2 separate regions of the Homo sapiens genome follow, and region 2 is linked to region 1. A link means that fine-mapping ties the variant in region 1 to the plasma level of a protein whose gene starts in the linked region. Region 1 holds a variant in brackets. A gene starts in the other region. All regions are shown on their reverse strands.

Region 1 (5,376 bases):
AGAAAAAAAAAAAGAAAATTAACACTTTAATATGTACTTTTAATCATCTTAGATTAAAGAGTGTAGCCTGATAGCTTTAAGAGTTAATACTTTGTACTTGCCTTATATTTCTAATGCTCACAAAGCATCCTAGACTATAGCATAATTAAAAATTTTACTTCCAACTATTTTTACACTGCAAAAGTATGCCTAGATCAAAGCATTTTGTATTTATTTTCTTCAGGCTCTCTCACTGCATTATACCATCAACCTTATTAAGTTAGTGTACCCTATGAAGATGCATGAGAGAAATAAGCTCTCATTTGTTTAAATATCCCACCTACAATAATGTAGGTGATGACAGAATTAGTGAAAATGGGAACTCCTTTTGCTTTGTGACAGAAACCACATTTAATAGGCCTAATTTTAGATGTAGTCACTGATTCTGTCCCATGATAAAAGAATAAGATGTGGAATGTGCCAAACAGAACTTCTAAAGGTATATGTTAAATCAAAGAGTGTTCCTTTGAGTTTGCACAAAAAAAAAAAAGAGAGAAAAATCTCATTGATTTTACAGAAGAATTAAGGGAAAATATCACTCTATGGATTGCTTGATGTGAGGGAATTCTAGAGCATTTTGCTTTAGTCTGATGCTTAGTAGACAAGTCCCCTGAGTAGGAAGCATGGCTAATTCTGTACTTTAAAGTGCCTAATGTGGTGTTGACATACTCAAATGTTAAATAATATATTTTAACATGAAGGGAAAGCTCAGAGCTTTCATGAGGTAAAGCTGAAAAATAGTTATACATGCCCTTGACTCACAGAAAATAAAGAGGCAAAAGCTCACATTCATTTATTCATTTCAGGAAAAAGCCTAATAGTCTTGTGTTTAGCACATTTTGGATTTACATTTCCTAGATTTTCAGAGGTTCAAATCCTCCCTCAGAAGAAAATTTATCTAATAGCTCTCAATATCAGTCTTTTTTTTTTCCTGAAAAGCCCTATCCCCCTTTCTGGCACTCACACTTGAAATTATTGTACTAAAAATGTTAAGTTTTTGCTTCTTTTTAAAATCTACAATATACTTAAGTACATCAAATCGTGCACTTTAAATTGGTCCATTGTATGTTATGTGAATTACATCTTAAAGCTGTAAAAAAAAA[AG/G]AAAGCCCACTAAACTATACCAATAAACTGTATATACTTAGTGCCTTCTTTCATCTTTCTTTTTTGACTAGTTCTTTTGATAGGTAAAAATTCAAACCAAAATAATAATTTCAAATAAAATGTTTCCAGATATGCCAAAAGGAAGTACTTTGAAAATGATTTAAGTGAACAAGAGACTCCATTCACAGCTTAGTCACTCAAAATTATCATTTATTTTAATAGTAACAAATTTATAATTTCCACACTAGCTCTATTGGCTGATTTAATATTAGACAAAGTTTTTTTTTTTTCTGCAGATTCAACAAAGTGTGGATTCACTTACTCATTGAATCAATACATTTAAACTTTAAATCAAACTGTTTTCTTTGGGGAGTGTGTACAAAAATAACTGCTTCCAGGCCGGGCGCGGTGGCTCATGCCTGTAATCCCAGCACTTTGGGAGGCCGAGGTGGGCGGGTCACGAGGTCAGGAGATCAAGACCATCCTGGCTAACATGGTGAAACCCTGTCTCTACTAAAAATACAAAAAATTTAGCTGGGCGTGGTGGCGGGCGCCTGTAGTCCCAGCTACTTGGGAGGCTGAGGCAGGAGAATGGCATGAACCCGGGAGGCGGAGCTTGCAGTTAGCCGAGATTGTGCCACTGCACTCCAGCCTGGGCGACAGAGTGAGACTCTGTCTCAAAAAACAAACAAACAAACAAACAAACAAAACTGCTTCCAAATGAAGATACAATGCCCCCACTTCAAGTGACCTACAGCCTAATGGGGACTACCAACAAGTAAGCTGGCATGTTGCTACACTGTACTTACACTACAGAAACAACTGTCATGTAATGGTCAACAAACATCTGGCAACTGCCAAATAAGTGCTGGTAAACCAACAATTAAGCTATTCCATTATGTGAAATGTGGCACATAGTTCTGTAAACATGAGTTAGCCCGTAGTAATAGAAGTGCAGTATCACTGCTAGAGTTGTAATAGTAGCTATATTTATGTGATTGGACCAATGTTAACATTCATTTTCAAAGAGAAGATCTCAGGGAAGAGTTTTGATGGCTTGGGAGAAGTAAAGGAACCTTGGGCAGAGACCATATCTGGGCCTAAGGCAGTTGTAGTCCGAGCTGACCCTGTGTGACTAGAAGTCCACACGAGTATGCAAGGGAATTGAAGCTGAAAGAAGAAGTCCTGAAGGCAAATATTACTACCCTCCCAAGCCGAACCTACACCAAACCTAAACCTCTTGTATTTTCAAACGCGAATACTGTCATGAGCATATAAATGACAGAGTTAGGTCACTTGCATGATAAGGTGGCAGCTGGGCAGTGGCAGTGCAAGCAGAAATCCCACTGGGCTGAAAATTTACAGGAAAACCATGAGCTTTAGTTTGGTTCTTCCTCCAAATTGTCTAACTGGTCACTTAACCTCTCTAGTTCTGTCCTGACTTGTTAACTCTCAAAGAACATGACTCTTTGTGTTTAGCATGTTTTCTGATGGTTAATGAGTCAGCAAATGAAGGAAATGTCAAGCACTGAAGATAAGAAGAAATATTATTTTAATGGTGGTGTTTTGAAGTCTGACAGTTAAAGGATTAATTAAAGATGTGTTTATAGAAGCTGGCTGTCTTTGTAATCACTGGTGGATCTCAATATCTACAAAACAGGACCCCATCCTTTTTTCTTGCTAGCCTTTTTTCATTTCTTAATGCAAGATTTTCCTCTGTATGTTACTTTCGTGTCTTGTTCCATGCAGAAGGGATAAGATGATCTAGTAATAAGTAAGTTTTGGTTATATTATAAAAGATAATGAATTAACCCTCTTAAAATGCTTCAGAAATTCTTAGATGAATGCAAATTATTGTTTGGGGGAACTGCCAAATCTTGAACATCTCATTGAATTGAAGAGACAGAAAAGAGTTATCTTCCTATGAAAGAATGGTTGATGGTTATTGTTTTAAGATATTTCCATAGCTAATGGGTATTTATTGTAAATTTCTGCTTTAATAAATCTTTTCCTTCTTTCTACAAATCCACTATGTAATGACTTATGCAGTGTGCCTTAAGGTATTCTATCCTGGGCCAAGGCAAACTATTTTCCTCAGGACTGTTATCTATTATAACAAGTAAAGTCATAGCAATTGTCTAGAGAGGACCCTTGTAAGAAATAACAATATTTTTGCTGTCTGAAGGGTTTATCAAGCCAAGTGACAGGAATGTCAGCTAACATTCATTGTCTCTGAACTCGTATTTGGAATACAATTAAGAAATAGATAAACAAGGAAAACATACTGATTTGGGGTTCCCCAAAGGATAAAGTTTCCTCCCCTCAAAAAAGAATCTGATGTGACTCATTTGGATAATAATAAGTATTTGGCCTTTAAAAAAAGCTTTATTATATACAAGGTATATGACATGATGTTTTGATACACATATATATAGTGATTAGTGCAGTCAAGCAAATTGTTATATCCATCATCTCATATAGTTGCCTTTCTTTTCTTATTTTTGCTTTGTTTTTGTGGTAAGAGAACCTCAAATCTACTCCTGGCAAATTTCCAGTATACAATCCAACATGATTAACTATAGTCCTCATTAGATCTCTAGACTTTTTCATCCTGCATAACTGCAACTCTGTGGCATTTTTAAGAGTCTAAAATGTTGTTCCAGTGACATGAATGAGCATTTCTAAAGTAAAATATTATACCTATCAAAAATTGTAAAAGAGCTGAACCAAAATTTTGTATAGATCTGATGTTCAATGCAAACAGTATTCTCAACATTGAAACTGAGTGTTACGTCTTCTTTGATTTAATCCCAGTGGTCAGTTTGGTGACTGAATCAAGTGTTTAAAAAAAAAAAAAACTGGTCATAGCTGAGATTCATTTAGATCAGATGAAGATGATCCCTGTGAACAGAAAAGGAACTAAGGGACTTTCAGCCCCTCAGCTGACATGCCTTTTCTTTGCCATCAAAGTGTTATGATGTTATTAAGTGTCTTATGATAGAGTTGGTCTCATTTTCAGTGACCATTTATTTAGCCAGTTCATTTTATCATAATTTCACCCCAGCCCATGAAAGACACTGCTCTTCTTAAGAACTCCAACCTGATTCTGACTTCCCTTTGAAAAGTTTACAACCAGTGTCATTTCACCCCAAGAAGGGCTTGCTGCAGGTAAAATTTCTAAGTTTTAGAAGTTTACCTTTGAAATCTACAATTTTTTTTTTTTTTTTTTTTTTTGAGACAGGGTCTTGCTCCGTTGCCCACACTGGAGTGCAGAGGCACAATCTTGGCTCACTGCAACCTCTGCATACCAGGTTCAAATGATCCTCTTGCCTTAGCCTCCCAAGTAGCTGCGACTACAGGCATGTACCACCAAGCCTGGCTAATTTTTGTACTTTTTGTAGAGACAGGGTTTTGCCATGTTGCCCAGGCTCATCTCAAACTCCTGGATTTGAGTGATCCACCCGCCTTGGCCTCCCAAAGTTCTGGGATTATAGCTGTGAGCCGTGGCACCTGACCATCTCCCATTTCCTTGTGTGTACTCTCTACCACACACACCCCACCCCACACTGAGTGATCTGGCAGTACTGTAGTCCAGAAAGTTTTATTTTCTTATCTAAATCTTGGGGTACACACTTTACCATCATCAAGCATATCTCCAAGCATACCTTCCACACACCCCTTGGCCTGGCTTCCTGAAATGTTTATGCTCACAGATATTTTGTGAAAGCATCCTGTGTAATAGTTACAGTCCAGTCAGAAAACAGAAATCACACTAGTTATTTTCACAGAGAGCATTCAACATAGGCATTTGGTGAAAGGGACATTAGTAATCTTAAAAAGCAAAACAGAACACAATGGAAACAAGATAACGCTTTTGAAAGCCGTTACCTTCTCTAGGGCTGAGAGGACAAAAGGAAAAGGTGGGGGTCAGCAGATCCTAGAAGGCCAGAGGAGGAGCCTTGTGGAGTTGGGACTCGGTCCTCTGAGAAAGGAAGCCACCCAGCTAGTGCTGGGATTGATACCTCAGGAGCTGGGCCTCAGATCTCTGAGGAGAGAACTGCCAGACTACTTGTGATACCCGTGAGAGTAATGAAGTTGACTCTGGGAGCACTGAAGGAAGCTGGAAGCCGGAACCAACTGTGTAGCTGCCAGAGTAAAGTACCATTGCTGAGGCAATGTGGGTGGAACATTAAGAGCACAGGAAGGAGCAAGTTCTTTTTCCCTCCTCCTGCC
Region 2 (5,376 bases), not on the chromosome of region 1:
CTGACCTCGTGATCCACCCGCCTCACACCCCTTACAGGCATGAGCCACCATGCCTGGCCACCCTTGGCTTTCTAATTGCTGAATGCAATGGACATTTTCCCATTGTGATCTTATTTGATCTCTGTGGCTTATGCTTCAAGATCTCCCTCTTGAAACTCTTTTCTCCTTAGCTCAATCTTTGATTCCATGAGCAAATCTCCAGAGCTCAAGCTTTGATTCCATACAATGTAGAGTTTGTGTTGTTTTTACTTAAAACAGGAGGAGGCTGAGCAAGTATATGAGAGCACTGAACTTAGTAGATGAGAGGAGGGCACACTTCTAGGAGAGAAGCACAAAAGATACAGGTGGGAAGGGAGGTAGGCAAATTCATAGATGAAGTGGTCAGAAGGTGAGTGTTACACACACTCCTCCCCCTGCACATATACAGGCAAATTTTTAAAAACCTAATTTTCTCAGTAGTGTTCAATTTACTACTGCAAGTGAGGTGATCAGGAGAGCAGGTAGGCTTCTGAACAGTGCTGAAAGTAAATGACCTTTTGCAAGGGGAGAGGACGCTGAGCAGGGACAGGTAGCAAGGAGGGCTCAGCTGCTGTGAGAGCAGAGGTTAGGCTCAAGAAAGAAAAGGAGCTGAAAGATGCTTGCAGTGTGTGCACATGAAAATACGAAACTCTGGCCCAGGGTATTAAAAGCTCAACAGGAAGAAAAGACATTTGCCTTTTAATATTTTTCTTTTAATTAAGCCCTGAAGACCCTCCATTGCAATTCTACAGCCTCCCAACAGCAAGGACTTTCTCAGCGCTTTCAGGCTACCCAGCCGGCGCAGAGGATCCTAAGCCTCAGCAGAGGCAAAACCTCCCCAGGCTGTAGCAGGGCAAGTGCTGATTTGGTGAATAATTAATGCCTCACTCACCTAGACCCCAAGGCTCCCGCCTGCCTCAGACTCGTGCAGGCTTACGAACTCGTAAAGCAGCTGACTCTATGGTCTAATGATTAAACTTCTCTGGGCCTTATTTCGTTACAGCTAAGTTAAAAACTGACCAGCTAGCCGCTTAAACTCTTCTCCCGGAAATGACTGGAAAACAAGCCAAGTCTCCTGACTGGACTGACAACTAACTATACTCCCTGAATTCCAGCCACATTTGCCCAGAGCAGGACTCCAAGCTTTGACTCTGTCCATTGCTAAGGGTAGCAGAATGGGTGGTGGGGTCCCGTCACCAACCTCTTTTCCCTCTCCAACCCCTAGAAGGTGGTGAGTTTCTATGTACCCCTAATTTCACCAGGCAGGTTACACTGTGTTGTTAGAGACCCTTCATTAGAGGCCCTCTCCCCACCTCAGCATTTGCACACCATGGAGAATCGTCGAGATGAGCGTTGTGGGGAAGTGCCTCTCATGAGAGATTTCCACTTCCTGGCTGTGTCAACTCTTCCACGGCGAGATGGGAAACGGAGTCAGTAACAATAATAGTGTCATTTGAGGAATTACCTGAGCTAAAGCCATCATCTGGATATAGGTAGGAAGATTTTTTTTTTTTTTTGAGACGTAGTTTTGCTCTTGTTGCCCAGGCTGGAGTGCAATGGCACGATCCCGGTTCACGGCAACCTCCTTCTCCCAGGTTCAAGCGATTTTCGTGCCTCGGCCTCCCGAGTAGCTGGGATTACAGGCGCCCGCCACCACGCCCAGCTAATTTTTGTATTTTTAGTAGAGATGGAGTTGCACCATGTTGGAAGTAGATTTTTTAAAAACAGAACTGGACGTTCAATTCAATGCCGTGACCACCTGGGTAACAGGGATTACAGATAGGTCCTGAATAAATGTGTGCGCAAAGAATTGCAGGGCGCACAGAGCTTCTCCTCCTTCCTAGGAAGACACTGTAGATGTCGCGCCCATCCCAAGCTCTTGGATACTAGGGGCGGAGAGGAAGTGTCACTTTCTAAAGAACAAACACGACAGGTCGACCCTGTTTCTAAAGGGTTAACCCGCCTTCCCCGAGCGCACCGCACGAGAGTTTTAGCCGTGGGCACGTTTGGTGATTCACTTCTTGCGAACGTAAATGCGCGAGTCCGCGGTAGGTCCCGCCGGCCCCCTGGCTGGGCAACCTGAAAACCCACCTCGGAGACGCCCCCACGCATCCGCCCCCCTCGCTGGACGGCCCCGCCGCGCGCCGTTCTGGGACGCGCACCCCGGGGCGGACCCGCCCTGGGACCTGGAAGCGCCCCAGCCCCGCAGCGATCGCAGATTCGGCTTTCAAACAAAAGAGGCGCCCCGGGGGGTGGGACCGGGACCTCACCCGGTCCTCGCAGAGTTGCGGCCGCCCGCCCCTTCAGCCCCGGCTCTCCGTATGCGCATGAGCAGAGGCGCCTCCCTCTGTTCCTCCCAAGGCTAAACTTTCTAATTCCCTTCTTTGGGCTCGGGGGCTCCCGGAGCAGGGCGAGAGCTCGCGTCGCCGGGTGAGGAGAACAAAGTGGCTGCACGATTTTCCCCACTTTCCAGCCCACCCCCCGCTTCCGTGGGAGCGACAGGAAATGGAAGGGCGCCTCTTCTCTCTTTGAACATTTGCCTTTTTTCCCCTCCTTTCCACCTCTCCAGAAAGGAAGACGGGAAGAAAGGGCAGGCGGCTCGGCGGGCGTCTTCTCCACTCCTCTGCCGCGTCCCCGTGGCTGCAGGGAGCCGGCATGGGGCTTCTCCAGTTGCTAGCTTTCAGTTTCTTAGGTAATTCCGTGGAAACGGTGCGGGGAGGCGGACGGACTTGGGCATGGGGAAGGAAAACCCAAAAGCTGCTTGCTCACCTTCGTGGGATCCTGGGGGCTTGGGAGAGGGACTGGATGGAAATGACGCCCCTGGGATTAAACGCCACCGCCCTTGCTTCGGTGGTGGCTGGAGACAGCGCACGCGGAGCGCCGCGGACCCTCATCCCCCGGGCTCTGCGCCCAAGCCCCGGCCCCTGCGGCCTCCCGCGGCCCCCGCTCAGGGTTTTGCACCCTCGGCCGGTTCACCCTGGGTTTCCCCACCGCAGAGGGCAGGTTCCCTGGGGTTGGCGGTGCTGACCGAGGAGGGCTCTCCAAAAATCCATTGCCCAGGAGAGTGCCTGAGCTGAGCGGAGGCTTCATTCTGGGAACAGATGGGGGCCATGTGGCTTTAATTAACCATCTCTGTTTGTCTCCGGATGGCACCAGAAACAGCAGGACCTGGCGCTTCCCTGGAATGGAGAAGCCTTGAAACCACTCCAGAGCCCCAGGGACTGTCCATGGGCTCCCCTAGCTCCGGAAAGCGGCGTCCACCGCGAGCCCCGGCGCCTCGTCCCCAGCGAAGCGCCGGTGACCCTCGCGCGTGCACGCACACGCACTCTCGCTTCCCAAGCTCACAGATCTCCACGCGCACACTCACACCGAGGATGCGCGGGCTGCCGCGTGCACGCGGGTTCACGTGCGTGGGTGTGTGGCCCTTTGGGGGTCAGCCTCCCTGCGCCGGGCTCCGGACACGTCGAAGTGGAGGGTCTACACATCCACCCTTTGTTGGGGGAGCTGCTCCCCGGGGCTGATCAGGGTGGGCGCGAGCGTCGGTGGGTTTCCCGGGAGGGAGGCTCTCGCTGCTGGACAGACCTGATGACGTGTGTGGGTTTCTTTCCGTGTCCTTCTCCTTTCGGAGTCCCTGCCTTCCCAGCCTCTCCTGCGCTCATCTCTCCATTGTCTTTTCTGTGCATTTTGCTTTCTTCCGAATGGACTGTCCTCTCTCCGCACCCACTCCCCCGCCCCCGCTTGTTCGTTTTTTTCGGGCTCCACTCCCTGCTTGTGTCCCCCCAACTCTGTTGCCTGTCCTTCCCGCAGCCCTGTGCAGAGCCCGAGTGCGCGCTCAGGAACCCGAGTTCAGCTACGGCTGCGCAGAAGGCAGCTGCTATCCCGCCACGGGCGACCTTCTCATCGGCCGAGCACAGAAGCTTTCGGTGACCTCGACGTGCGGGCTGCACAAGCCCGAACCCTACTGTATCGTCAGCCACTTGCAGGTGAGGGCTGAGAGCGGGGTTCGAGGCTCTGCTAGCGCCTCCTCCCGTCCAGACCTAAGGGGCAGGCCCTGGGGACTCCGCATCCTTCCAGCAATCCAGATAGGAAGCGCAGCCAGCCGGGGAGTCCCGGGATTAGGCTTGTAGCTCAACCTTTCGCCCCATCTCAGTTTGCACAGTTGCATCCGCCACACATTTCCTGCCGGCGCGGTGAGTATGGAAAGGCAGGACTGCCGACAGCCCTGGCTGCCCTGACCCAGAGCCTCCAAAAGGCCTGATTGTGTGTGTGTTTTTTAAAACTTTAGTTTTGGAAGTGTGCATTAAAGGTGATTTATCCTCTTTTTAAAACCCTTGGGTTTCCCCACCCCCCTCTACCGCATCTTCACTTGGGTAAAGAGGATTCCAGCAATGACAGGCGTCTTGCAAGGTGATTCCAATCACTGAACGAACCCGTTTTCCTCTCCTCATTTGGTGCTGTTCCCAACTAGATATCAGGATCAGATGCTTGCTTTTACGAAATGCCCTGGTTGCCATGGTACCCTGATACAGGAAGACCACAGTGAAATTTCAGGGTGTTACCTGTTTCTAAAAGAGGGCCCAAATTTTAGATTTCAGGGGTCATATTTATACAAAGTCAAAAGTAATTTTAAAAGAAGACACAAAGTGTAAAATATTCAGAATCAGAATACTTTTCCTTCATTTTTAAAAAGGAGGCTGGCCGGGAGCAAAATGGCTCCATGCCTGTAATCCCAGCACTTAGGGAGGCTGAGGTGGGAGGATCACTGGAGCCCAAGTGTTCAAGACCAGCCTGGACAACATAGACTCAGTCTCTACAAAAAATTTTTAAAACTTAGCTGGGCGTGGTGGTCCACACCTGTGGTCCCAGCTGTCTGGGAGGCTGAGGTGGGAGGATCACTTGAGCCCAGTAGGTCGAGGCTGCAGTAAGCGATAATCAGTCCACTGCATTCCAGCTTGATCAACAAAGGGAGACCCTGTCTCAAAAAATTTTTTTAAATAAAGGCTGATATTTCTGGCCTCTAACAAAAGCAGAAAGTATCAGTTTCACATTCGGGGCAAGTTCCAAGCTAATTGCTCAGAACATGGTCAGCCCACCCACCTGTACAATTGCCCTTCAGAAGGAGGACAGAGTATTGTGTGTGGTTTGCACAGCAGATCCCTTAAAATGGAGTCACTTTTACAAAGCAGAAAGCCCATTCTGGAGACCTGATCAATTAGACCAAAGGAATGTGGTAAAGTGGATTCCGTTCATTTGCTTCCAGGTTTATACAGAGATGTCTAGACTGCTTCCTCCTGATTAGAAGGGAGGCTGTAATTAAACTTTTTTAAACTTTTTTTTTTTTTGAGTTCTGGTGATTGT

Alleles and levels. Positions count from the first base shown, and alleles are read on the strand shown. Strength reflects both the effect of a copy and how common the allele is.
For the plasma level of the protein whose gene starts at base 2,398 in region 2, AG is the low allele of the variant in region 1 and G is the other (weak association).

The links. A credible set is the group of variants that fine-mapping cannot tell apart. PIP is the chance, under the fine-mapping model, that this variant and not a neighbour inherited with it causes the effect. The UK Biobank Pharma Proteomics Project read protein levels with antibody pairs (Olink). The fine-mapping took linkage between variants from a reference panel, not from the people measured, so its PIPs are less certain.
Region 2: it holds the start of LAMB1, and the variant in region 1 is the best candidate, but not a certain one, in a credible set for the plasma level of the LAMB1 protein (UK Biobank, PIP 0.52).

The regions. Positions count from the first base shown.
Region 1 is chr15:36,986,409-36,991,784 of GRCh38, reverse strand. The region is part of intron 8 of MEIS2 (Meis homeobox 2); the gene reads left to right. Among named protein-coding and RNA genes, the nearest start is that of MIR8063, 16 kb to the right of the region's middle. The variant AG/G (reference allele first, on the strand shown) is at 1,143.
Region 2 is chr7:108,000,183-108,005,558 of GRCh38, reverse strand. It overlaps LAMB1 (laminin subunit beta 1), which reads left to right and starts at 2,398. Exons shown (of 34, transcript NM_002291.3): 1 at 2,398-2,448; 2 at 2,588-2,710; 3 at 3,826-4,001. The coding sequence starts at 2,674. RefSeq lists an enhancer at 3,960-4,560.